2 separate regions of the Homo sapiens genome follow, and region 1 is linked to region 2. The links come from fine-mapping of genetic effects on gene expression. A gene starts in region 2. The other region holds a variant in brackets. All regions are shown on one strand. Distances are from middle to middle. Region 1 holds the start of HBEGF (heparin binding EGF like growth factor). Region 2 holds the start of HARS1 (histidyl-tRNA synthetase 1).

Region 1 (12,517 bases), 350 kb before region 2:
ACACCCAGCTAATTTTTGTATTTTTAGTAGAGACGGGGGTTTCTCTATGTTGGCCAGGCTGGTCTCGAACTCCTGACCTCAGGCGACCCACGTGCCTCGGCCTCCCAAAGTGCTGTGATTACAGGTGTGAGCCACTGTGCCCAGCAGAAACTACTCTTTGAGGGCAACTTTTGGCTGGTGACACAAAAAGGGTTTTCCTGTTCATGGTGGCTGCAGAGGGCTAGTTTAGGAAGCCAGCTAGCCTCAGGCTCACCACAGCAGCCTGGACACACCCTGGCTAGTGGTTCCTGGGTCTGGAGTCAAACAAGAGCCACAAAGATCCCCAGATGAACGTGCACAGATGTCACATTCCCCCAAACCAGGATTTCTGTCTTCTTGCTGCTTTCTGCCCTGAGTAGCAAGGGCAGGAGGCAGTAGGGGGCCAGTCCAGACATGCAATCAACCCCCTGAAAATCTGCCCAGGAAGTGGTGGCCCACGCCTGTAATCCCAGCACTTTGGGAGTCCAAGGCAGGCTGATTACTTGAGGTTAGGAGTTCAAGACCAGCCTGGCCAACATGGTGAAACCCCATCTCCACAAAAATTTAAAAATTAGCCAGATGTGGGGGCATGTGCCTGTAATACCAGCTGCTCAGGAGGCTGAAGCAGGAAAATCACTTTAATCTGGGAGGCGGAGGCTGCAGAGAGCCGAGATTGTGTCACTGCACTCCAGCCTGGGTGACAGAGCGAGATTCCATCTCAAAAAAAAAAAAGGCTAGATATGGTGGCTCATGCCTGTAATCCCAGCACTTTGGGAGGCTGAGGCAGGCGGATCACCTGAGGTCAAGAGTTCAAGACCAGCCTGGCCAACACGGCAAAACTACGTCTCTACTAAAAATATAAAAATTATTAATTCGGCATGGTGGCAGGTGCCTGTAGTCCCAGCCACTTAGGAGGCTGAGGCAGGAGAATTGCTTGAACCCAGGAGGCAGAGGTTGCAGTGAGCTGAGATCACACCACTGCACCCCAGCATGGGAGACAGAGTGAGACTCTGTCTCAAAAAAAAAAAAAAAAAAAAAAAGAAAGAAAGAAAGAAAAGAACAAAGAAAAAGAAAATTCTGCCCAAGAAGTTAATGTAAAGTTTTCAAATCAGATTGCTGTGCTGTTAGACTAGTAAAAGAATAAGAGACCTCTAGGACAACAGCTGCCCTCTGCCCTCTATAAAATGCTGCTCCAACTCTATAAGGACAGATACAGGAAAGAAAGATGAAAGCCAACACCCAGTACAGCTTGAGGGCATGAAAAGCATGTTGGACTAGGAGTCAGGTACTGAGACTCTGTCTTATTTCCAACTACTTATTTAGCTATTGACCTCAGGCAAATTACTTCCTATTTTCTGGCTCCAGTTTCATCACCTTTCAAGTAGAGGTACCAAGTCCTGCCTACTCAGCAGAGGGCTTTTGAAAAATCCCAGGAAACTATATCTCTCCAGCTCCTAAAGTAGTGTCTGCCACCAAATAGGGGCTCAACATACTTGGGCTCAACTCATATTATATATAAACACTGAAACTCTGGGACAAAGGAGATATGACATCATTATAGTTATCACTATCCCTAGGGACCACTGGGAAGGTGGCCTGGGCACCCATATCAGGTTCTCTGGGTTTAGGTGGTCATCCGAGTCCAGCTCTCCAGGAGGGCAACCTTATAAGGCCTCTCAACCACACAGTGCAAGCCCCACATCCATCCACCAAAATGCCCAGGACCAATCTGGTATAGACAGATTCCTGACCTCAATCCACCTTGACTACTTGAGTCACCTTCTTCACCCTGTACTAATGATGCCATTTTACAAATTTAAGATGAACATTTCCCACCCTGTCCCAAGACCTTGGGAAGGATAATATGGGGGCTTTCTATGCCACTCTTAAACAACTCCCTCTAATACCAAGCTCCTGACAAGGATGTTATAGGAAAGGATGCACAAGTGACTGTGGACATGGTGGGGAGTGATGGGTCTGTCTGCCAACTGCCAAATACAGGGCAGCTCTGCTGTGTGTGATCAGACAAAACAAGGAAGCTTTAAAAAGCTAAGGGATCTGCACCAATCACCAGTAGAAGGGATGCCAGGCACGCCGCCTTCTTGACAGGCTGGAGGCAGTGTGCATACAACAGTCTCTTGGCCCTGTCCAGAGTCTCCCACTAAGGCCCCCAGAGCCTCCCTCCCCACAGGGAAGGGAATGGATGTTTGCAGCCTGACGCAGGGTGTTGGCCTCAGGCACAGTGGCAACATTATGCCTGCCAGAGAGCATGGCAGTGCTGTCATCCCTGAGGGGTTGCCAAGGCAGCCGTTTGCTGGGTTTGGCTTAGGAGAGAGGCTAAGGAACCCACAGCCCCTCCACCCACACACCTACCCAGGGAAGGGGTGATGTTGCCTGACCGGGGGCTGATGCCTAATGGGTCAGGTTCCATTTCCTGTGAACCCTGCACAAAGGAATTGTTCTCTCACAACGTGGCCAAAGGCCAGTACTCTCCATGTCTCCCACCTCCTCGTCCTTGCTGGGATAAGGAAGAAGAAAGAGAGGCCTCAACCTGCCGCCATGATGATCCCTCTCTGTACAGTCCTGCCATGCCTCACAGTCAATCCACATTTGCACACTTACATGCACATAAACCCAAATACACACATACCTATACATCATGCATCCAAATGCACTTCCTACCTTCCCACAGGAGCTCTACTCTGCCCTGGAAGCCCACTCTGCCATGTTTCCTACTGGCTTCTCCCTCCCAGAGTAGGGCATCAGGCAAGAATTAAGGGCCTGCCTTCAGGTGCCAGCTGTCCTAGCCACATGCTCATTTCTGGGCAAGCAGGAAATGTCCCCAAGGATTAAAGCACGTCACAAAACCATACCACAGGAAATTGCATCCTATAGGGGGGAGGGGGCTTCCGCTGACTAAAAATATATTTCCCCTCCTCCCAACTTCCGCCCAGAGGTTGAGAAGAAACTGGGTGAAATTATGAATTCAAGGAACAGTGACAACGAGGAACAGCCACGTGGCTGACAAAGTGTGCTGATGAGATTCAGCCCTGGGGAAGGGGCACTTACATGCAGGAGGGAGCCCGGAGCTCCTTCACATATTTGCATTCTCCATGGATGCAGAAGTCCTTGTATTTCCGAAGACATGGGTCCCTCTTCTTCCCTAGCCCCTTGCCTTTCTTCTTTCTTTTCCCGTGCTCCTCCTTGTTTGGTGTGGCCAGTGCTTGTGGCTTGGAGGATAAAGTGACTGTAGGAGAAAAGCACTCTGTTAAAGTCTGACTCTTTGGGAAGAAAATCAGAAGAGCATAGTGCTTGAAAGGAGTATATATGCTTTGATTCCACCTGAAGTCAGAGATCTGGGAAGGCCCCTTAGCTCAGTGCCTCCTAAGAGGCAGAAGGAAGAGCAGGAAGATTGGGCAGAACCACCAGAAAGAGGGAACCTCGGTAGGAAGTAGAAGCTAGGGTGGGTCCCAAGGAAGGCATTTCACAGTCTCTGTGTAAGAGCCTCATTCTCAGAATGCTTTTGTTGAGTAACTGGGCAATTCTACCAACCTCACCTCCACCCCACTGTCCACCTTACACCCCCATCTCCTACTCCCCCACACCCACTTCATTCTATTTTGGCCTTCAATCAGCCTCATTTCCTGATGCTGTACTCAGTGAACCACTTGCAGAAAGACAGTGTCACACACAAAAATTGCTTCTAGAGAAGGTACTTGGAGGTTCTGGGGTTGGAGGGCTCCTAATATAAGAACAGTGTCCATGTGTTCAGGTGGTCTCTTCTGGGGCACCCCTTAGTACTATGAGCCCAGGGCAGAGCCTGGCTCAGGAACAGCAAGCAGGCCAGCCCTGGTCACGGCCTTGCTTTTTCAACTTCAAGCAAAATATTTAACTTGCATACCCTTTACAGCTCACCCACTTTCTCAAAGATTCATTCATATTTAACCCCCAATGTCCTGTTTATAGCTCTCTGGATTGGGGGGTACAGGGTGTACAAGGGATAGAAAAATGGAAAGTAAGGAACTGTCCAGAAGGAACTGGAACAATGATGACTCCCTCCTTCTTTCCATGCTTCAGAGAGACTGGGGGAAAAACAGCCTCACCCAGATATCCAGCTGGGATTGACCAGGGACTATGCCTATCAGCCCAATCCCACCCTTTTATCCCCCATCAGGAAAAAGGTGCCCACATCCATGGCTACAGCCATGTGTCTTACAGAAGGGTAAGCATGATACGTTAGACTAGAGACTTAGAGTCTCAAGCTAGAGGGACTTCAAAGAATACCATGTGGCCAGGCACGGTGGCTCACGCCTGTAATCCCAACACTTTGGGAGGCTGAGGCAGGTGGATCACCTGAGGTCGGGAGTTCGAGACCAGCCTTGCCAACATGGCAAAAATCTCATCTCTACAAAAAATACAAAAATTAGCCGGGCGTGGTGGTGTGTGCCTGTTATCGCAGCTACTCAGGAGGCTGAGGCAGGAGAATCACTTGAACCTGGGAGGCAGAGATTGCAGTGAGCTGAGATCGTGCCATTGCACTCCAGCCTGGGTGACAGAGTGAGACTATGTTTAAAAAAAAAAAAAAGAAAAAAAGAAAAAACTCATGGCAGGCAGAGTGACTTACTCAAGGTCATGCAGGATTGGGATTAGAACTGTGTTCTCTGGACTTCACTCCAATGTCCTTCCTCACCACACCAAGCTGCCTCACACACTCCCATCTCCTCCCTCTCACAAGTCTAGAGCACCTGAGATGCTGATCCAGGCATGAATGGGCTCTGAAGTCCATAGACCTGTGCTCCAATTTCAGCTATTTACTGTGGGCAGTCACTTAACTCCTCTGAACCTCAGGTTCTCAGTAAAATGTGGATAGCCAAAGTAACTATCTCAAAAGGTTGCTATAAGTGTTACATTAGCCAGGATAACATATCAAGTGCCTAGAACACAGTAGGAATTTAATAAATGGTAGCAGTCATTTATTTTAGGTGGTAGGATCCCCAGACCTGAAAAATAGTCCTTGCCCAGCAAAGCCAAAAGAAGGGAAGAGAAGTAGGTGCCAGCAGCCCCCACAGTCTTTCATTTCCTCTCATCCAGTCCCAGGCCCCCTCAGAGCTCAGAAGGTGATACAGGTGGTCAGAGGAACCCAGTGACCAGAGCTTCGGGGAGAGCAAGGCAGGGGGGCCAAGCCAATCAGAAAGGGGAGGGAGAAGGTGCAGGGTGACAGCCAGGCTCCTGCCATGGACAGGGAGCAGTGAGTCAGGTCTGCAGAGGTAAGAGGAGCAGCCGTGTGGGTGGGGGGTGGGGGTGGGGTGAGTCACAGCCCAGCCCTGCCCAGCCTAGGAGGAGAGGGCCAGGAGAATCCAGGCTGTTCAGGTCATGGGCAACCCCAGAGGGCCACTGGGAGAGGATGAAGTATGGGAGCCCAGGCTCAGTTTTGGAGTATGTGCTTGATTTATACAAAGTAGAGAGAGTATCCAAGGAAAGCTCCTGGGAATGAGGGAGAAGGGCAGCTGAGGAGCAGGTGGAACTAGAACAGGTGGGCATCTGTCCAACCAAATATAGTCATTCCAGGGTACAGTGCTGAGTCCTTGCTCTACTCTGGATAATCTCCTCAGGTTTGGAGGCAGGAGAGCTGGCAGGCTCTGGACTCTGCCCTGTACCTGTACTTGGCCACAGCCAAAGAGGCTGGTTGGAGGATCCTACACAGCCCTCCCCATTTGGAGTCTCCTCAGGAATGCAAGGTGCTCAGTAAGCTGCAGGTTTCCGGTAGCATTCACAGATATCCAGCATTTTAATACAGCCCCCTAGGGGCTCAGTGCTCACCATTCACAGCCTCATCTAGGGCGGCCAAGAGCTCCTCATTCCCCTCTGTTTCCCCAATCTGGAGACAGGTGGATGGAGGAGGCCAACACTGCACACTTTCTAGAGATGTGCCTGGGCATCTCCGCATGTGTTACCTCTATTTTATATATAATAGTCATTTGATATGGGAATTAGAACTGGCGCCCATTTTTACATAGTAGCTCTAGGGAAAGCATCTCAACCATTCCTTGTTCCTATCACCCAGCTTACCTAAGAAGAACGTAACAACCCCAGACAACACGTCTGATTCAATTTGCCCCGGAGTACCCAGAAGGGCAGCAACCCAGCAGGTGAGGCAATGACAAGAGAGAGAGAGTGGGACCTATATTCCAGGATCCCCCAGTGCCCATCAGGCCGATCAGCTTTTCCCCGAGGTTCTCCATGAATACCCTCAACCCACAGTATTGCCCAAACAGCAAGAATCTTGGATCTGCTTATTCTTCAACAGCCCACCAAGGTCCAAGGATGGGGGGCCTCCACACCCACCTCTCAAAAGGTCCAGATCTGCCTCTTGCAAGTCACGGACTTTCCGGTCCCGGCCGCCTCCTAGGGGTAGCAGCTGGTCCGTGGATACAGTGGGAGGGTCCGGGTTGCTGGTTCCAGCAGCTAGCCCTCTCCGAAGCCGCTCCAGGCTCTCGCCAGTCACCAGTGCCGAGAGAACTGCGGGCGAGAGGCCAGGCCGCATCAGACACCCGCCCAGACCCCTGACCAACACGCACCGATGCCGACGCCCGTCCGCCAGAGCGCAAGGGCCCCACCAAGTGGCCCGTGCCGGGTGCGCTGCGGCGACCTTCCCCCATGCCCCCAGCACAACGCCCCCATCCCCCCGATCTCCGGGGGCGTCGGCAGCCCTCTTACCTGCAGCCAGAAAGAGCTTCAGCACCACCGACGGCAGCAGCTTCATGGTCCCGCACCGAGAGGAGGCGGCGAGGCACCAGTCACTTTCGAAGC[G/A]GCGGCCACTGGGCGCTGGCACCAGAGCTGGGCGGCGGAGCTCAGGAGATTCCGCCGGGCACCGTCTGCCGCCCGCCTCTGCGTGCAAGCCTGGCCGGGACCCAGGCGCAGCTCGCTCTTCTTGAGTGTCTTGTCTTGCTCACTCAGCCCGCCCGCGCGGCCGCCCGACCCCGCGCGCCTAGGTCAGGCCAGCCAGCAGCGTGGCCCGCGTAGCTCCTTCGGCCGAATGAGCGCTGCCCGGCTCGCGGCCGGGAATAAGGCTCCAGGAGGCGCGGAAGCTCCGCCCCGCCCGGCGCCGCCCCCTCCCTCCTCCCGTGCTGGGAAGCTCGCCCGGCTCGCGGCGCCGGCAGCGCAGCCCCCGACCCCGCGGGCGCGGCGGAGGACTGGGCGGGAGGAGAGGGCGGCGTTCACAATTTTTGGGACCAGGCCGAGGCAGCCGCGGCCTGATTGTGGGTAGGGCTACTGACCGGCAGGTGGCGGAGAGCGGTTCCTACCTTTCCCCAAACGCCTGTCACTCTGCAGCCTTGTGACTGACTGCTGAGCTGAGTTCTGTTCCGGGCCTGGCCTCTTGCTTCATCTAAGCCCCATACCAGGGGTCTCCATCCCTGTCACCCTCTAAGTTTCAGAAGCCCACCTTTTGGCCTACCAACACGGCAAGTATCAAATAATAATTAATTCATCTATCATTTAAAAATTAGACACGTGAATGCCAGCCGTTCTCATAAACCCGAGATAACCAGAGTTGAAGTTGCAGGCACTTAGTATCAATCCAGCAAAAGCAAAGGAAGTTAGTACTCTCTTAGTCTCTGGAGTGGCTTCCTCCCATCTTCCCTCAGGGGACATTAGGATTTTTGAACTATGGGTTGTAATTCCCAGGCTTCTGAGATTGGAGAGACACAGGTTGTGAAACAAGCCTTATTCTTTTCCTTGCCTTTGACTGCCACCTTTTTCCTCAACATAAAAAATGAGCCACCCTCCCATAGGACCCAGCTGGCTAACCTAGATTGCTGTTTCACAGACACTAGGTGTTTCTCTTCCAACCCATGTGCTTTTGCAGGGGTCTTCTGGAGTCACTGTCCTGACCCAAAGAAATGAGTGTCTCAGTAGGTATTTCAGTTTCCAGGGACGTGCTGGGGAGAGAGTTGTTTGACACAGGGCTGGGTTGGCTTTCAGAGCCCTGAAATTGTGCCAGATAGAGCACTTGCCGGATTCTGCCTGTGTGTAGGGATAAAAACAGGCCTGCTATTTATACACAGTCTATCCCACTGTCCCTCCCTATCCCCACCTTTGCAGGGGTCAGTCTGGCCCTGCCCTCTTAACTTGCTCCAGTAACCTAGGCCTAGGTTTCCATAGTGCACTGGAATCACTACAGACCTGAGTTTGAATCCTGCCTTTGCTACTTACTGTGTGACCTTGGACAAGAAACTTAATTTCACTGAGCCTCAGTTTTGACGTCTCTCAAATGGAAAAAATAATAACAATAATAATAATGACTACTTTGTAGGGAGCTTTTTGAGAAATGAATGCGGGAACACATAAAAGTAGTTAGTATAGTGCCAGGCACACTATAAGCTCTCAATAAATGTGACCCATTATTATTGTTGCTGTTAATAATAATCACTAAGCACTTGACCACTCTATTTCCTTAGAGGCCTCTTTTCTCTCACTTCTCTAGATCGCTTGCCTTCCCCTAGGCCATATCTGAGGCTTTATGATATAGTTGGGCTGGTTTCAGACAGAAGCTCACCTGTCACCTATTTGGCTAAGAGCCACTGTTAGATTATCCTTTTGGGTGATGAGTATCGGGCCTAGGACCTCAGTGCATGGTCACCGCCCAAGCCATGACTTTGCCCTCCCTCAGCAGCTGCCTGGCCACCTGCTTCCCCAAAACAAAGCCACCTTGGGGTCAAGGCTCTCCCCAGGGGAGGGTGGAGAGAAACACTTCCTGACACATGGTCAAATCACCCCCTTTCCCCCACCCTCGCCAGAGTCACACCCTGCTCTCTTGCCCCAGCCTGCCTTTCTCCCTTCACATGCTCTGTCCTTCCGCCTTCTCACCCCCACATCAGCCTCAGTCCCATTCATGGGGCAACTCCAAACTTTCATCACACCTGGAGCCTCACCCCAGCTAGGTTTGTGTGTCAGCCAGGTTTTACAGGAAGGGCCTGAAAAAAGAAGATAAAAAGCTTGAATTGGATTTGGGACAGTCACTTCCCCTCTCAGAATCTTGGATGTCTCTGAGCAAAGAAAAGGAATCACAATTCATGCTGAGGCAATCTCATTAACTCAATTATATCATAAACATTAACTGAACATTTTTGGGGGGCACTGGGGACATAGAAATAAATAAGACAGCCCAGGACCTGCTTTCACAGAGCTTATATTCTATAGTAGACAGGCAGCACATTAAGGAAATAAACAAGGAAAAACATATCCTATAGTGATAACTGCTAAGATGAAAGTTAAAATACAATGATGTGCTGTAGGATAATATGTTCCAGTGCCCAGGATGACACTTTAAACTGATTAGCAAAGCCTTCTCTGAGCAGGTGACATGTAAGCTGAGGCCTGAATGAGAAGAAGAAATCAGATTTGGGATCATCTATGACAAAAGCATTCCAAGATGTGCAAATAGTGCAAAGACTCTGAAATGGAAAAAAGTTGGGAGCATTCAAGGAAAAGCAAGAGGGCCAAAAAAGGAGAGATATGGGATGATATTGGAACAAAGGCTAGCAACAGATAAAAGAGGACGTTATAAGCCAAGGTAGACACTGGATTTTATGCCCCATTATTGTCAGAATCATATGAGATGTCAATGAGACAGCACTGTCATGCAGGATTCCTCCATATTGTCCCCTCCTCCTGCTCAGGTCTCCCCCACCTGCTCTCTGGATGTCAGGTTGTCAAATGCCAGGAACATAGTCCTAAGGAAGTAGAGTTCAGACAGACAAGCCTGCTTTTATTGACTGTCTATTGACCATGAGCAAACTGAGGCTTGGAGACTGATTAGCCCTGGGCCACCAGTGAGTCAGAAGGGGGCAAGTGCAGAGCAGAAACCCTGGCATCCTGCTTCCCAGCCCATGCGAGTTTCCTGGGCCTCTGGAAAGGCAGGCTCCATGGGACTCTGAGTGCTGCTGACTCACTGCTAGGCCAGAGTTCTTGATTTGGAGAGAGCACTTGCTCCCCAGTGGGGAGGACCTGGAAGAAAGCGGTGCTAGTGGTGACAATTCCCCTGTAATCAACACTGCACATGCATTATCTTGCTTGATCCTCACAACATCCCCCAAACTAGACACTGTTATCATCATCTGCATTTTAAAGGATTGAAGCTTTAAAAGGTAACATCCCAAGGTCACCCAGCTAGTGAGTGTCTCAGCCTCAATTTGAAACCCCCTCGTTCACTTGGGCTTGTGCTCTCCTAAGCTCAACACTCAAATGGATGAGACGACAGCCGCCATCTCTATGCTTCTGTGGAGGGTAACATTATCAGTTTTACTGAGTTTCAGTCCTTCATCTGTTCTGAGGGATAATAAGAAACTCTGGCTCACTAGACTGGAAGGATGCTTAGGTAAGCACAGCAGGGCAGCTAATGAAATGGATACAGTCTTGGGAGTCAGATACTTGGGGGTTCAAATTTTGTTGGTTTTTTTTTCTTTCTAACTTTGAACATGTTATTCAATTTCTCTTACCTACAGTTTGCTCACCTGAAAAGTGGGGACAATAATAGTAGTTATTATTATAGGGCTTTTGTGATGATTCAGTCAGATCATGTGTATAAAGCGGAATATGATGCCTGGCACATAGTAGGTACTTACTCAATGACAGCGGTTATTATGACCAAATTTTTTTCTTGCTTTCTTTCCTTTTTCTTTTTAAGTGGGAACTTGAATAAAATGTTGGTTTATCATGAGCTAGCCATCCTCAGAGATGAAGTGTTCCTTTCTGGGAGATGGCCATGCTTATCAAAGAGATGCTAGATCTGCAAGGCCACCCAGAGTTTTGGAAACCTCAACCCAAAAAAGCAACTCAGGCTCAGAGGTCAGAGGGAAGCTGTGCCCCCTGGGGGAGAGGATTCAGCTGCCTTCTCATTCCCCTCTGACCAGAAGTGAATCCTGCACAGCCCTTGAACTCTGCTGCGTTGGGGAGAGGGGTAAAGAAGGGCACCTCCATTAAGGGTAGGTCTGACCATGAGCCCAGAGTTACCCAAACTTGGAATGTCAGGATGAGGGGTCATTGCTTCTTGGCCCAGGCTGGCTTCTCTCACCCCATCTGAGACAGTTAATCAAACAGTTTGGGCATACAGCTGGATTAGATTAGAATTCAGGCCTGCCCTTTGGAGCCCCCGTGTACCTTCTTATGCTGGCTGGGCACCTGGAAGTAGCGTGCTTCATGCATATTCAGGGATGAACAGGCTCTGCTGTCTGATTGTTTGGGGCTAGGATCTATTTGAATAGGATGAAGGATAGGAATGGATGAGATAGGGGGAGGCTTTTGGAGGTGAGGGGGTTTCAGGAATCCCTGTCATCTCCAGAAGATGTTGAGGAAGGAATATTTATAATGTGCTGGATCCCAAACCATCCTTCTCTATTTCTGGTCCCATTTTTGTGACTTTGAATGATTAACATCTCCAGACCAAGGACTTTGCCCCTACAGCCATCCCCTCTGTGTTGGCCAGCACAGAGAGAAAGTGATTCCTCCCTCATTACACACCCATCTCTCTCTTCAAGCCTCAGATTCCTCAAGTGAAAAATGAGAACTTGAAACAATTACCCTGCATTCAGGCACCGGCCAGTATGTCCATCATGAATTATTTGCTGTCATGTTGCTGTCAAAAGACTTGAGGAGGCTGGGCGCGGTGGCTCATGCCTGTAATCCCAGCCCTTTGGGAGGCTGAGGTGGGCAAATCACCTGAGGTCAGGAGTTCGAGACCAGCCTGGCCAACATGGCAAAACCCTGTCTCTATTTATTAGTACAAAAATTAGCCGAGCGTTGTGGCAGGCACCTGTTATCCCAGCTACTCAGGAGGCTGAGGCAGGAGAATCACTTGAGCCTGGGAGGTGCAGGTTGCGGTGAGCTGTGATGGCACCACTGCACTCTAGACTGGGCGACAAAGCAAGACTCCGTCTCAAAAAAAAAAAAAAAAAAAAGACTTGGGGAGACAATTCTATAACAATTGACAGTGCCTGATTTACAGGATGTGATAACCTTTCTCTCTGTGTCTCAGCTTCTTCGTCTATAAGTGGGGAGAATAACAATCTACTTAGGAGGTTCTTGTGACAACTGAAGGAGATAGCATCTCTGAAGTGCTTGGCAAAATGAAAAGCCCTATATAAATACGTCAGAGCTCCTGTTAACTTTTCTGGTGCTTAACCTTGGAATGTGGTCACATCACATTCTGTACCAGGAATGTACAAGTTCGGTTACTCTTAGAAATGCAGTTGCAGGTCTGCAATTTAACAATTTCACATTATCCATTTGCTCGTTTTTTTAACTAAGGGTTGGTCTAAGACAATGGTTCGCAAAGAAAGAGATACTGCCCCCTAGGGGACATTTCAGGAATTTAGTTGTCACTGACTGGGGAGTCCTCAGGCATTTGGGAGAAAAAGGGGTCAGGAAATTACCTGACTGCTTTTGAGTGTCCTACCAAACACATATCGGTAAAAAGCTTGGTTGTAATAACTTGAGCCTA
Region 2 (12,517 bases):
AGGGTGAAGTGGGGAGTTATTGTTTAATGGGTACAGAGTTTCAATTGGGGATGATGAAAAAATTCTGGAGGTGGATAATGGTGATGGTTATGAGTATGAATGTACTTCATGTTACTGAACTGTACACTTAAAAATCATTAAAATGGGCTGGGCGTGGTGGCTCACACCTGTAATCCCAGCACTTTGGGAGGCCAAGGCAGGTGGATCACGGGGTCAAGAGATCGAGACTATCCTGGCCAACATGGTGAAACCCCATCTCTACTAAAAAATACAAAAATTAGCTGGGCGTGGTGGCACACACCTGTAGTCCCAGCTACCTGGGACGCTGAGGCAGGAGAATTGCTTGAACCCAGGAGGTGGAGGCTGCAGTGAGCCAAGGTCATGCCACTGCACTCCAGCCTGGTGACAGAGTGAGACTCTGTCTCAAAAAAAAAAAAAAATCATTAAAATGGTAAATTTTATGTTACGTATATTTTCCTACAAAAAAAAATCCACTACTGTATTTTGTACTTTGAATGAATGGATCCTTTGCCTGTGCATGATTTCATAACAGGTCTTTCAAATGTTGATACATTTCATTATACAATATCAGGAAGCCTTATTTATTTACATCACTTCAGATCTCATCAAGAAAGTCTTTTTTTTTTTTTTTTGAGATGGAGTCTCGCTCTGTCACCCAGGCTGAAGTGCAGTGGTGTGATCTCGGCTCACTGCAACCTCCACCTCCCAGGTTCAAATAATTCTCCTGCCTCAGCCTCCTGAGTAACTGGGACTACATACAGGCGCGTGCCACCACGCCCGGCAAATTTTTTGTATTTTTAGTAGAGACGGGGTTCCACCATGTTAGCCAGGATGGTCTTGATCTCCTGACCTCATGATCCACTTGCCTCTGCTTCCCAAAGTGCTTGGATTACAGGCATGAGCCACCTTGCCTGGCCTGTTTTTATTTGTTTGTTTGTTTTTGAGATGGAGTCTCACTCTGTCACCCAGGCTGGAGTACAGTGGCGTGTTCTCGGCTCACTGCAACCTCCACCTCCCAGGTTCAAACGATTCTCCTGCCTCAGCCTCCCAAGGAGCTGGGATTACAGACGTGAGCTACCATACCTGGCTAAATTTTTATTTTTAGTAGAGACAGCGTTTCACCATGTTGGCTAGGCTGGTCTCAAACTCCCGACCTCAGGTGATCCGCCCACCTTGGTCTCTCAAAGTGCTGGGATTACAGGCGTAAGCCACCACACCCAGTAGAAAACTCTTTAATTATTGGGAAGCTGTCAAGCTTATGATGGAAGATGCAAGTTTTCTAAAATTCTTTTTTTTTTTTTTTTGAGATGTAGTTTCACTCGTTGCCTAGGCTGGAGTGCAATGACGCGATCTCGGCTCACCACAACCTCTGCTTCCCAGGTTCAAGCGATTCTTGTGCCTTAGCTTCCCTAGTAGCTGGCATTACAAGCATGCGCCACCACGCCCAGCTAATTTTTAGTAGAGATGGGGTTTCTCTATGTTGGTCAGGTTGGTCTCAAACTCCCGACCTCAGGTGATCCGCCCGCCTTGGTCTCCCAAAGTGCTGGGATTATAGGCTTGAGCCACCATGCCCTGACTAAGTTTTCTAAAATTCTAACTTTCACCTGAATACTTGAATTTTTTCACTGCCTACAAGTACTGTCAGATGTTTTCCTTGAGGTGACGAGGCTCACTTCGTTTATTGTTGTAAAAATGTCTGCCAAATATTTAAGTTTGAAAAACCATAATTTATCTTTCAGTTGTTAATTCAAATAAAACAAGATGTTCTATGAAAAAAGTAGCTAGATCAGCTTGCAACTTGAACAATGGCATAAGCATTTTCCCTACCTTGGCGTGCAGAAGTGCTTTATGTGTACTTCCCATTTTGTCATAGCAAATATTTAAAAATAGGGTCCTCAAGGGTCAAGATTCAATAAAATCAGTAAGTTTTTGGCCAGGCATGGTGGCTCAGCCTAGCACTTTGGGAGGCCAAGGTGGGCAGATTGCCTGAGCTCAAGAGTTCCAAACCAGCCTGGGCAACATGGTGAAACATGTTGTAGGTTTCTTGTATGTTTTTTGTATTTCTGTAAAAATACAAAAAATTAGCTGCATGTGGTGGTACCCGCCTGTAATCCCAGATACTCAGGAGGCTGAGGCACAATAATTGCTTGAACCCGGGAAGTGGAGGCTGCAGTGAGCCAAGATCGTGACACTGAACTCCAGCCTGGGCAACAGAGTGAGATTCTGTCTCCAAAGAAACCCCAAAACAAACAAAGTTTTACCATTTTATCAATGACATAGTTAAGTAAAACTGAATTTTTTAAATTAATTAATTAATTAATTTATTTATTTACTTACTGTGAGTGCATGGCAGTGAAGAACACACTGGCTATTAGTACAGTTTAGTGTCACTGTCTTAATGTATGCTAAGGCACCAGCAGTTCTACTCACCAGCGCTTTTGTGCCTTCAGTGCAAATGTTAACACAACGAAAAAGGCAGATAATGTCTTAGAATTATTATAGAAGGGCCAGGCGCAGTGGCTCACGCCTGTAATCCCAGCACTTTAGGAGGCCGAGGTGGGAGGATCACTTGAGGCCAGGAATTCAAGACCAGCGCAGCCAACACGGTGAAACCCCATCTGTACTAAAAATACAAAAAATTAGCTAGGTGCGGTGGCACATCCCTGTAGTCCCAGCTACTCGGAAGGCTGAGGCAGGACAATCGCTTGAACCCGGGAGGCGGAGGTTGCAGTGAGCTGAGATCACGCCACTGCACTCCAGCCTGGGCGACAGAGCAAGACTCCGTCTCAAACAAAACAAAACAAAACAAAACAAAACAAAACAAAACAAAAGAATTATTATAGAAATAGTTTTGACCATGAAGATCCCTTGAAAGAGTCTTGTCCCCACAATACTGAGTTTTCTATTGTTAATACTAAAATGGATATTAACTCTCTAGCATAATCTTAACACTATAGTATGGAAATTTTCAAAGACACAATATAGAGAATAGTATTACAGGTCACCATTTATCCATTACCCAGCTTCAACAACCATTAACATCTGCTATTCTTATTTCATTTAAGCCCTGACATGTTTTTCTTACATATTTTTAAATAAATCCCAGACGTCATATCATTTCATCCATAAATACTTCAGTATGAATCTCTAACTCATACGGACATTTAAAAAACCCCAAAGACTCTATCTTTATTATAACTAACAAAACTAACAGCAACTCCTTAATATTATCTAATGCTAAGCCATGGTCAGTTTTCCCCAGTTGCCTCAATAATATCTTTTTATGGTTGATTTATTTGAATCAGCTTCAGAATGAAGTCTATGCGTTGTAATCAGCTGATATGTCTATTTAATCTACAATAGTTTCCTTCCCTCCCCAACTTTTTTTTTTTATTTTAAAAAGGTCATTTATTAACTGAGGAAATTGGGCCATTTGTCCTAAAAAAAAATTTTCACATTCTAGATTTGGTGAACAATATGCTTGATGTGCCATCTAACATGTTCCTCCATCTCTAGTATTTCCTGTAAACTGATAGTTAGTCCAAAGATCTGATTAGATTCAAGTTCAATTTACTTGGCAAGAATACTTCCCAGGTGGTGCTGTGTACTTCTTCTTGCATCACATCAGCAGGAACATAATGTCTAGTTGTCCTACTTTTAGTGATGTTAAAACTGATCACTAGTGAGGACAGACTGATCCATCATAAATTCCACAGTAAGCTTTTCATCTAATAGTTTGAAAAATCATTGATGATCACCACTTTGGGATTTTACACTGTCTCTTTAACCTTCAAAAATTAGTTATATGTAGAAAGAAACAGCTCAATGAATTTAGGATCCCAAAGAATTAACCTTAACACAAGGAAAACAGACCATCTCCCCTCTCCTTTGGAATTCAATTTCAAATACATGTATTAAATAGAATCATCCCTCAGTATCCACAGGAGATTTGTTCTGGGCCCCATGTGAATACCAAAAATCCATGGATGCTCAAGCCCTTGACATAAAATTATATGCACATCCTCCTATATACTTTAAATAGTCTCTAGAGTGTTTATAATGCCTTAGACAATGTAAAGGCTATGTAAATAGTTGCTATACTATATTTTTTATTTGAAATTTTTATTGTTAGATTTCAAAAGGTTTTTATTTGTTTGTTTGTTTTTAGAGATAGGGACTCACTATGTTGCTCAGGCTGGTCTCAAGCTCCTGGGCTCAAATGATCCTCCCCTTGTGGCCTCCCAAAGTGCTGGGATTACAGGTGTAAGCCACCACACTCAGCCAGATTTTTTTTCTTAATCGTTTCTTTTCCCCTGAATGGTTTTGATCCACAGTTGGTTGAATCTGTGAATGTGGGACCTTGGGATATGGAGGGCTGACTATACCTATTTAGGCATCTAGTCTCAGTCTCAGGGTAAATAAACGACATAAATAACTACTTAAAGTTGGTGTAATAACAAATATGTATGAAGTGCCAAGAGCACCTAGATGAAGGGGTAAACAGTTCTGTTTATAGAACTTACAGAAAGTGGAACTGAACTGGAGGATGAGCTCAGAATCTCCAACCTCATTCCACTCTACTCTCCTTAACTTAGTTCTAGCCATGTAGATCATCCTCTAGTTCCTCAAAACTACCAAAGTTCTTTCCCACTTTAGGGTTTCCATACTCTACCTGGACCTATCTTTGTCACACTTGTCCTCTGGCTATCTCCTACTCATTCATTAGATCAGTTAGTATATCACTTCCTCAGTTAGCCTTTCTCAGACTCCCCAGTTCTCCCTTATTTTTCTCAGAGCAACCTTAATTTCTTTATATCATTTTTCACAATATGTAATTACATAACCACATGTGGTGGCCGGGTGCGGTGGCACACGTCTGTAATCCCAGCACTTTGGGAGACTGAGGCGGGCAGATCACTTGAGGTCAGAAGTTCAAGACCATCCTGGCCAATATGGTGAAACCCCGTCTCTACTAAAAATACAAAAATTAGCTGGGCATGGTGGTGGGCACCTGTAGTCCCAGCTACTCAGGAGGCTGAAGCAGGAGAATCGCTTGAACCCAGGAGGCAGCGGCTGCAGTGAGCCAAGATGTGCCACTGCACTCCAGCCTGTGCAACAGAGGATACTCTGTTTAAAAAAAAAACAAAAAAATCTGTGTGGGATTATTTGTTCTAAGTCTCTCTCCTTCAGTAGAATGTAAGCTCCATGAGGGTAGGCTATATTGTCCACCATGGTATATATTCAGTGCTTTGTATAGTGCTAGAGACATAGCGCTAAATACACATTTATTGAATGAACGAAGGAGTAGCAGCAGCAGGCTGACTCCCCTGATCACCCAGCTGGCCTAGTTTCTGCCATCACTTTGCCATCCCAGAATGACTCAGGTAGAGTCCAGTCCAGCCCAGCGCCCAGAGCGACTGTCCTCTCCTCTGCAGCATTTCAGATCCTCCTCAATGACCTGGTTTAGGGAGGCAGACATAAGCGCCCCGTGAGTAGAGTTAGAGACTTTCTCAGTGGCTCCCTACAGGAATGATATTACCTTGGGGGTTTTGAGCACAAATTTCTGTTTGCTTTCATCAGGACCCAGCTGTGCCTTCAGTTTCAGGAGTTTCGCCACCTCCTCCTCGATCTGTGGAGGGAAAGAAGGCGCTGAGCTATCCATCTGTCACTCTCCTCCCTCCCCCGCCATTCATTCAATATTCCTCCCTCATCACATCTCTCTGCTCAGGCCTAGCTTTGTTTCTCTCGGGACCCACCCCGGATGTCTCCCCACGCAGCCCACTCTCCTCCCTACAAGACTGGTCGCTTCCCTCACATCTCTACCCTATGTCCCGAACACCCTGGCTTTACGTCCTCCCAGGCTTTGCCTTGGCCCTCTCCCCTGCTGCCTAAATCTCACCAGCTCGGCGCTGGCCTTCTGCTGCTTGAGGCCTCGCACGCGCTCTCCCTGAAGTTTCACCAGCTCCTCCAGCGCCGCACGCTCTGCCATCCCGGCTGTCCACTTGAGCCGCCTGCTGTCTCGACCTGCGGTGGTTGCCCCAGCCTCAGCAAGGATGACTTCCGGCTATCGAGTCGCTGGGTCGCACGCCTAGAGAGCCTCCGCCGAGCACAAAAATTATTTCCGGCTCCTCCCGGAAGTGCCGAAGCTGGCTACTAAGGGAACTTGGGAGGATCCCACCTCAGCCTTCGTGACTAGTGAGGTGCGCAAACGCCCGAGTTTTCCCTGGTGCGCGGGTTCCGCCTTTGCAGTGCCCTCCACCCTTCCTGGTGTCTGACCCGCCTCCTTCCCAGGCCTTTTGTTCCTGTCCCGGAAAGCCGGCGTCCTGCCGCGCGATGCCCCTGCTCGGACTTCTTCCCAGGAGGGCCTGGGCTTCGCTGCTCAGCCAGCTCCTGCGACCGCCCTGCGCTTCGTGCACCGGGGCGGTCCGTTGCCAAAGCCAGGTGAGCGAGACAGAATTATCTCTGGTCTGTCCCAGCAGGGTCTCCAGATCTGAACGCATAGCCTCGCGGCCTGTATTCCAGTAGTGTTACAATCGGTTTTTATCGAGTGCCCACTATGTACTGACACTGAACTAAGCGATTTGGATGCCTGGTCATTTAATCCTTGGAGCAATCTTGAGAGGTTGGAGTTTTGATTTCCATTCTGCAGTTGAGGAAACGGAGGCTGCAAGATTAAATGAATGACTTATACACGGATATGTAGTAAGGGAGTATTTTAATTCATATCCACACTTTTTCCTGAAACTCTTGGACTCAAACAGTAACATTTTTAAGCGAAATATATGAATATTCCTAGTAAATGAGATGACTAAAGATCAGAAGTAGACTGAGTTCATCTTAGAATTTACCTCAAAATGAATCTCAGAAAAACATTTTCAGATGTCAGAGAGTTTTGGATTTTGGAATTGCAGATAAGGGATTGTGTACTTGAACTTGGACTTCTCTTAGGGCAGATAATCGCCATAGTATGGAACCACCACATCCTCTATTTTTGGAAGGGCATACAGCGTGCTGGTAATGTCACTGATTAAGTTTTGCCTTACTTCGGAAAGATTCTAATGCTCTCTTAGCAGATGCTTTGTGCTATCGTGAACAATAGGGCACAGATCTTTTATTGATATTCAATCACAGCATCTTATCAGTCTGAGTTTTTTAGCTCATTCAAGAAATCCATATCTTATCATTCCACAGGCTTGTTCTGTGTCCTTGAGCTGGTTCCCTTGTCTTCAAGTTACAGTTTTCCTCTCTCTAAACCTGATAACCAGTGCTACCTTATTAAAAATTATTATTTTTTTGTCCGGGCACAGTGGCTCATGCCTGTAATCCCATCACTTTGGGAGGCCAAGGGGGGTGGATCACCTGAGGTCAGGAGTTTGAGACCAGCCTGACCTGTATGGCGAAACCCCGTATCTACTAAAAATACAAAAATTAGCCGGGCGTGGTGGCATGTGCCTGTAATCCCAGCTACTCGGGAGGCAGAGACAGGAGAATCGCTTGAACCCGGGAGGCGGAGGTTGCAGGAGCTGAGATCGTGCCACTGCACTCCAGCCTGGGCGACAGAGTAAGACTCTATCTGAAAAAAAAAAAAAAATTATTTTTGCTCTTTCAGTAGGAACGGTGACCTGGAGAAGATCACCATAATCCCTACCCCTGAATGGTTGGTGTTGGTAGTGGTGGGTTGTTCAGTGCCTTCATTATTCTCAGATTCTTAAAGTATTTGAGAATATTAAAAATGCGGCTGAGCTCGGTGGCTCATGTCTGTAATCCCAGCACTTTGGGAGGCTGAAGCGGTTGGATCACGAGGTCAGGAGTTCAAGAGCAGCCTGGCCAACATGGTGAAACCCCATCTCTACTAAAAATACAAAAATTAGCTGGGCGTGGTGGTGGCGCGCCTGTAGTCCCAGCTACTCGGGAGGCTAAGGCAGGAGAATTGCTTGAACCAGGAGGCAGAGATTGCAGTGAGCCGTGATTGTGCCACTGTACTCCAGCCTGGGCAACAGACCGAGACTCTGTCTCAAAAAAAAAAAAAAAAATCCATATACAGTGAGGAAGCTTGTGTGGTGAAGACCTGACCTCATATATATTACACGTGTAATTGTAAATACAACATAGATTCTTTGGGGTGGGACTGAGATTGGGATAGATGAAATGGTGCTTTGGCTTCCTGTTGCTCAGGGTGAAGAGTCTTTGCAGGTTGGTGGTCAACAGGGTCAGAGATGCCACAGGTCTGGCCAGTGTCCAGAGAAGCCACATCTCACATTCATTCTTCTGCCAGGTTGCAGAGGCAGTGTTAACATCCCAACTGAAAGCACATCAAGAGAAACCAAATTTTATTATCAAGACCCCAAAGGTAATACTTTTTGCCTACCCTATCCCATTAGAGTGCCTTGGAGGACTGACCTCTGCCTTGCATGTCTCTCTGACCCCTTTTAATGTTCTTTACAGTAAATTTTAAAAATATATACTATTCTTGAGATACTAGGTGCGGCTCAGAGTCATTTGAACTCAGTAGATTTCAGCTCCAGACCTGAGATTACATAATAAGTGTAGTTTAACTCCTTGTCTGAAATGGACTTATTTTTTGTTTTTGTTTTCACTATGGCTGCTTTTGGTTTCCAGGGTACCAGGGATCTTAGTCCTCAGCATATGGTTGTGAGGGAGAAAATTCTTGATTTGGTTATCAGCTGCTTTAAACGTCATGGAGCAAAGGGGATGGACACCCCAGCATTTGAGCTGAAGGTAAGGGGAGAAGAAAGAGTACGTGCAACCTCACTCACTTCTTCAATGGCGTTCAGTGTCCCAAAGGGCTTCTCATCTGTGTTTTGGAGTCATGCTTTCAACTGTGGCTCATTCTGTTTGACCCCTATAGGAAACCCTGACTGAGAAGTATGGAGAGGACTCTGGGCTCATGTATGATCTGAAGGATCAAGGTGGAGAGCTGTTGTCCCTCCGCTATGACCTTACTGTATCCTTTTGAGTACTGGAGCCTGACCTGTCTCTTTCCAAATCCAGCGGGCTTTCTCTGACAAAAGTGGAGAACGTGACTTTGGGATCTTAGAGGTCCATTGCCTATACTTCTAGTTTCTCCCAGAAGGCAGTTCTGCTACGGAAGCCTGGCCTGGAGCCCTGTCATTTAACTCTAGTGTGTATCATAATCCTTTGGGGGAGCTTGCAGAAGCACAGACATTTGGCTGCAGTCCCAGAGATTCTTAGCTAATTCTGTAGCTGGAATGGGGCTCAATAATTTGTATTAAAAAATTGTTTTTTTTGGCCAGACACGTGGCTCACGCCTGTAATCCAAGCCCTTTGGGAGGCTGAGGCAGGTGGATCACCTGAGGTCAGGAGTTCAAGACCAGCCTGGCCAATATAGTGAAACCCCATCTCTACTCAGCTCCTGCTGAGCTCTGGGGCTCTCAGGTTCTGAGTCTAGTTTGGGACTGACTGTCACCTTGTCTCCACAGATCTCTTTTGACGTAAAAAGTTAGCTGGCTGTGGTGGCAGGTGCCTGTAATCCCAGCTACTAGGGAGGCTGAGGCAGGAGAATCACTTGAACCCAGGAGGCAGAGGTTGCAGTGAGCCGAGATTGCGCCATTGCACTCCAGCCTGGGTGACAAGAGCAAAACTCTGTCTCAAAAAAAAAATTTTTTTTGTGGAGATGGGTGTCTTTGTTGCCCAGGCTGGTTGTAAACTCATCGTTTCAAGTGATCCTCCCATCTTGGCCTCCTAAAGTGCTGGGGTTACGGGTGTGAGCCACTGCATCTGGCCTACAGTCTGCATTTTAAACAAGCATCGTGGGTAATTAAGATGCATGTAGTCCTTTCCCTGCACTTTCAGAACCAGTAGCTTAGAAGTTGTTAGGCAAATCCAAGTTCTGAAGCTTGACTATTTTGAGATGGTTCGGAATCGATCTGAATGGGCAGAAAGACCTGAAGTTAGTTCTTGGGTCACTTCTATCTCTACTTGCCTTGCTTTCTGCTGAACTTTTAGTTTTGCTAGGTGAGATTCCTTCATTTGACACTATTCAATATATATTGAATTCCAAGCACTGCTAGGCCTTGGGGATAGTGGAAAAAAGGGAAGGTCCTTGTTCTTACCCTAGTGGATGAGATCCAGGCCCAGTCCTCCCTAATGTCTGTATACTGGGCCTAATCTTTGGATGCAGTATCCCTCTTCCTTAACCCATTTATGTGAGGTTCCCTTTGCTCGTTATCTGGCCATGAATAAGGTGAAGAAGATGAAACGTTATCATGTTGGAAAGGTGTGGCGGCGAGAGAGCCCAACCATAGTCCAAGGCCGTTATAGGGAGTTCTGCCAGTGTGTAAGTGACCTGATGGGAGCAGCACAGTTTGATAGTTCTAGGGGCCACAACCTTGAAACTGGCTGGATAATGGATGTTTTTTCCCATCTTTTTCTTTGCTGTAGGATTTTGACATTGCTGGTCAGTTTGACCCTATGATCCCCGATGCAGAGTGTTTGAAGATCATGTGTGAAATCCTAAGTGGATTGCAGTTGGGAGACTTTCTCATTAAGGTGAGGCCAGGGCTGAGAACTGTGGGAGAAGTCTGGATTTGGCCTAATACTGTTTATGCAAGTCCCAAACTTGGGTGACTCCAACCCTTAAGCCTGCAACTGTAGGACTTTCCTAGTAAAGCTGTTGTATTTCCTATATGTCTGTACTCTTCCTGTGAAATTTCCATCCTTTTTGTGTGTCAGGAAAGTAGGTACTGCCATTGTTTTGAGTGGAAGGGCATTGACAAGCACTTGGGTCACTGACATTGAGTTCTCAGGTAAATGACCGGCGGATTGTGGATGGGATGTTTGCTGTCTGTGGTGTTCCTGAAAGCAAGTTCCGTGCCATCTGCTCCTCCATAGATAAACTAGACAAGGTAACAAAGAAGACATACTTCAGTAGACCCTATCTAGCTTCTGCCCTGCCCTCAAATCCATACCACTAGTGAAAAATAAGGAGATTGTGGCTGGAAGTGGGCTATTTTGGGGTGGAAGGTAAGGAGGCATACTCTGAAGGAAGATCTGAGTCATGCTATACAGTGGGGATTGTGACTGGATTTCTTAAGCTGTCTCTGACTTTGCTGAGTATACAGTTAGCTACTTGTGATGTATATACTGAATGGAAGTTGAGTTGTCCTTTTTCAGTTTGAGAAAGAAAGATCTTGGGGCTGGGCTAATGTTTGGGTGTTTATGCAGATGGCTTGGAAAGATGTGAGACATGAGATGGTGGTGAAGAAAGGCCTGGCTCCTGAGGTGGCTGATCGAATTGGGGACTATGTCCAGTGTCATGGTAAGAACCAGGGTTTTCAGAGCTGTGATAGAACCAGGCTGAAGGTGACATGTGCTCAAATTCTACCTCTGAAACAACTCTTTTCTGTAGATATGCTAAGCTCCAGGGCCTGTCCTGAATTTAATTTCTCTTTTACTTATTGTAACGACTTTGTGTCTTCAGATGGCAAAGCTAGAGGCAAAGGAGGAGGGTCTTGTCATGTGAGACTGGGATCTTTTTTTTTTTTTTTTTTTTTTAAAGAAAATGAGGAAGACTAGCTAGAGCACATTAGGGATAATTTTGAATGAAACACATGTGAGTGAACAGCAGAGACTTTATTTCTCTCCAGGTGGGGTATCCCTAGTAGAGCAAATGTTTCAGGATCCCAGACTATCCCAGAACAAGCAGGCCCTGGAGGGCCTGGGAGACCTAAAGCTGCTATTTGAATACCTGACTTTATTTGGAATTGCTGATAAGGTAAGCTGAATTGCAAATGGACCTCCTGCTGAGCTCTAGGGCTCTCAGGGTCCCGAGTCTAGTTTGGGACTGACTGTAATCTTGTCCCCACAGATCTCCTTTGACCTCAGCCTGGCTCGGGGCCTAGACTACTATACAGGAGTGATCTATGAAGCAGTGCTGCTGCAGACCCCAACTCAGGCTGGGGAGGAGCCCCTGAATGTGGGCAGTGTGGCTGCTGGTGGGCGCTATGATGGGCTGGTGGGCATGTTTGACCCCAAGGGCCACAAGGTGCCATGTGTGGGACTCAGCATTGGGGTTGAGCGAATCTTCTACATTGTGGAGCAGAGGATGAAGGTAGGTCCTAGATAGGTGTGAGGTGGGGCTGGAGACCTAAAAACCCTCCTGTTTCTGGAGGTGTAGTTGGAGTGGTTTTCTGATGATTCTTTTTGTCTTGATTTTTGGAATTGCTGGTGGAAAGGAGGTTTTTATTAGTTTTACTTTCTTCTCTCTTATTAGACCAAAGGTGAGAAGGTGCGGACTACAGAGACTCAAGTGTTTGTGGCCACACCACAGAAGAACTTTCTCCAAGAACGGTTGAAGCTTATTGCAGAGCTTTGGGATTCTGGAATCAAGGTATGGTGGAGCTGATATCTGAGCCATCTGGGTATGTGTGGAATTTAGGACCCAGGGCTATATCTATCTTATGTCTGGGGTGGAACTCAAAACCTTTTTAGTCTGCTAGCTACTACTGGCTACTAG

What was found.
Region 1: its variant is fine-mapped to the expression of HARS1 in testis (GTEx, PIP 0.94).

What each region holds. Positions count from the first base shown.
Region 1 is chr5:140,339,548-140,352,064 of GRCh38, forward strand. HBEGF (heparin binding EGF like growth factor) reads right to left here and starts at 7,056. Exons shown (of 6, transcript NM_001945.3): 1 at 6,736-7,056; 2 at 6,364-6,537; 3 at 3,088-3,265. The coding sequence starts at 6,781. RefSeq lists silencers at 6,971-7,250, 7,291-7,340. The variant G/A (reference allele first, on the strand shown) is at 6,829.
Region 2 is chr5:140,685,295-140,697,811 of GRCh38, forward strand. HARS1 (histidyl-tRNA synthetase 1) reads right to left here and starts at 6,076. Exons shown (of 13, transcript NM_002109.6): 1 at 5,921-6,076; 2 at 5,561-5,650. The coding sequence starts at 6,010. HARS2 (histidyl-tRNA synthetase 2, mitochondrial) reads left to right here and starts at 6,161. Exons shown (of 13, transcript NM_012208.4): 1 at 6,161-6,462; 2 at 8,297-8,371; 3 at 8,641-8,760; 4 at 8,891-8,986; 5 at 10,214-10,339; 6 at 10,444-10,551; 7 at 10,809-10,907; 8 at 11,227-11,320; 9 at 11,649-11,776; 10 at 11,870-12,112; 11 at 12,275-12,391. The coding sequence starts at 6,355. RefSeq lists enhancers at 5,783-6,012, 6,173-6,262, 6,343-6,412 and promoters at 6,011-6,461, 6,011-6,132, 6,104-6,130, 6,195-6,511.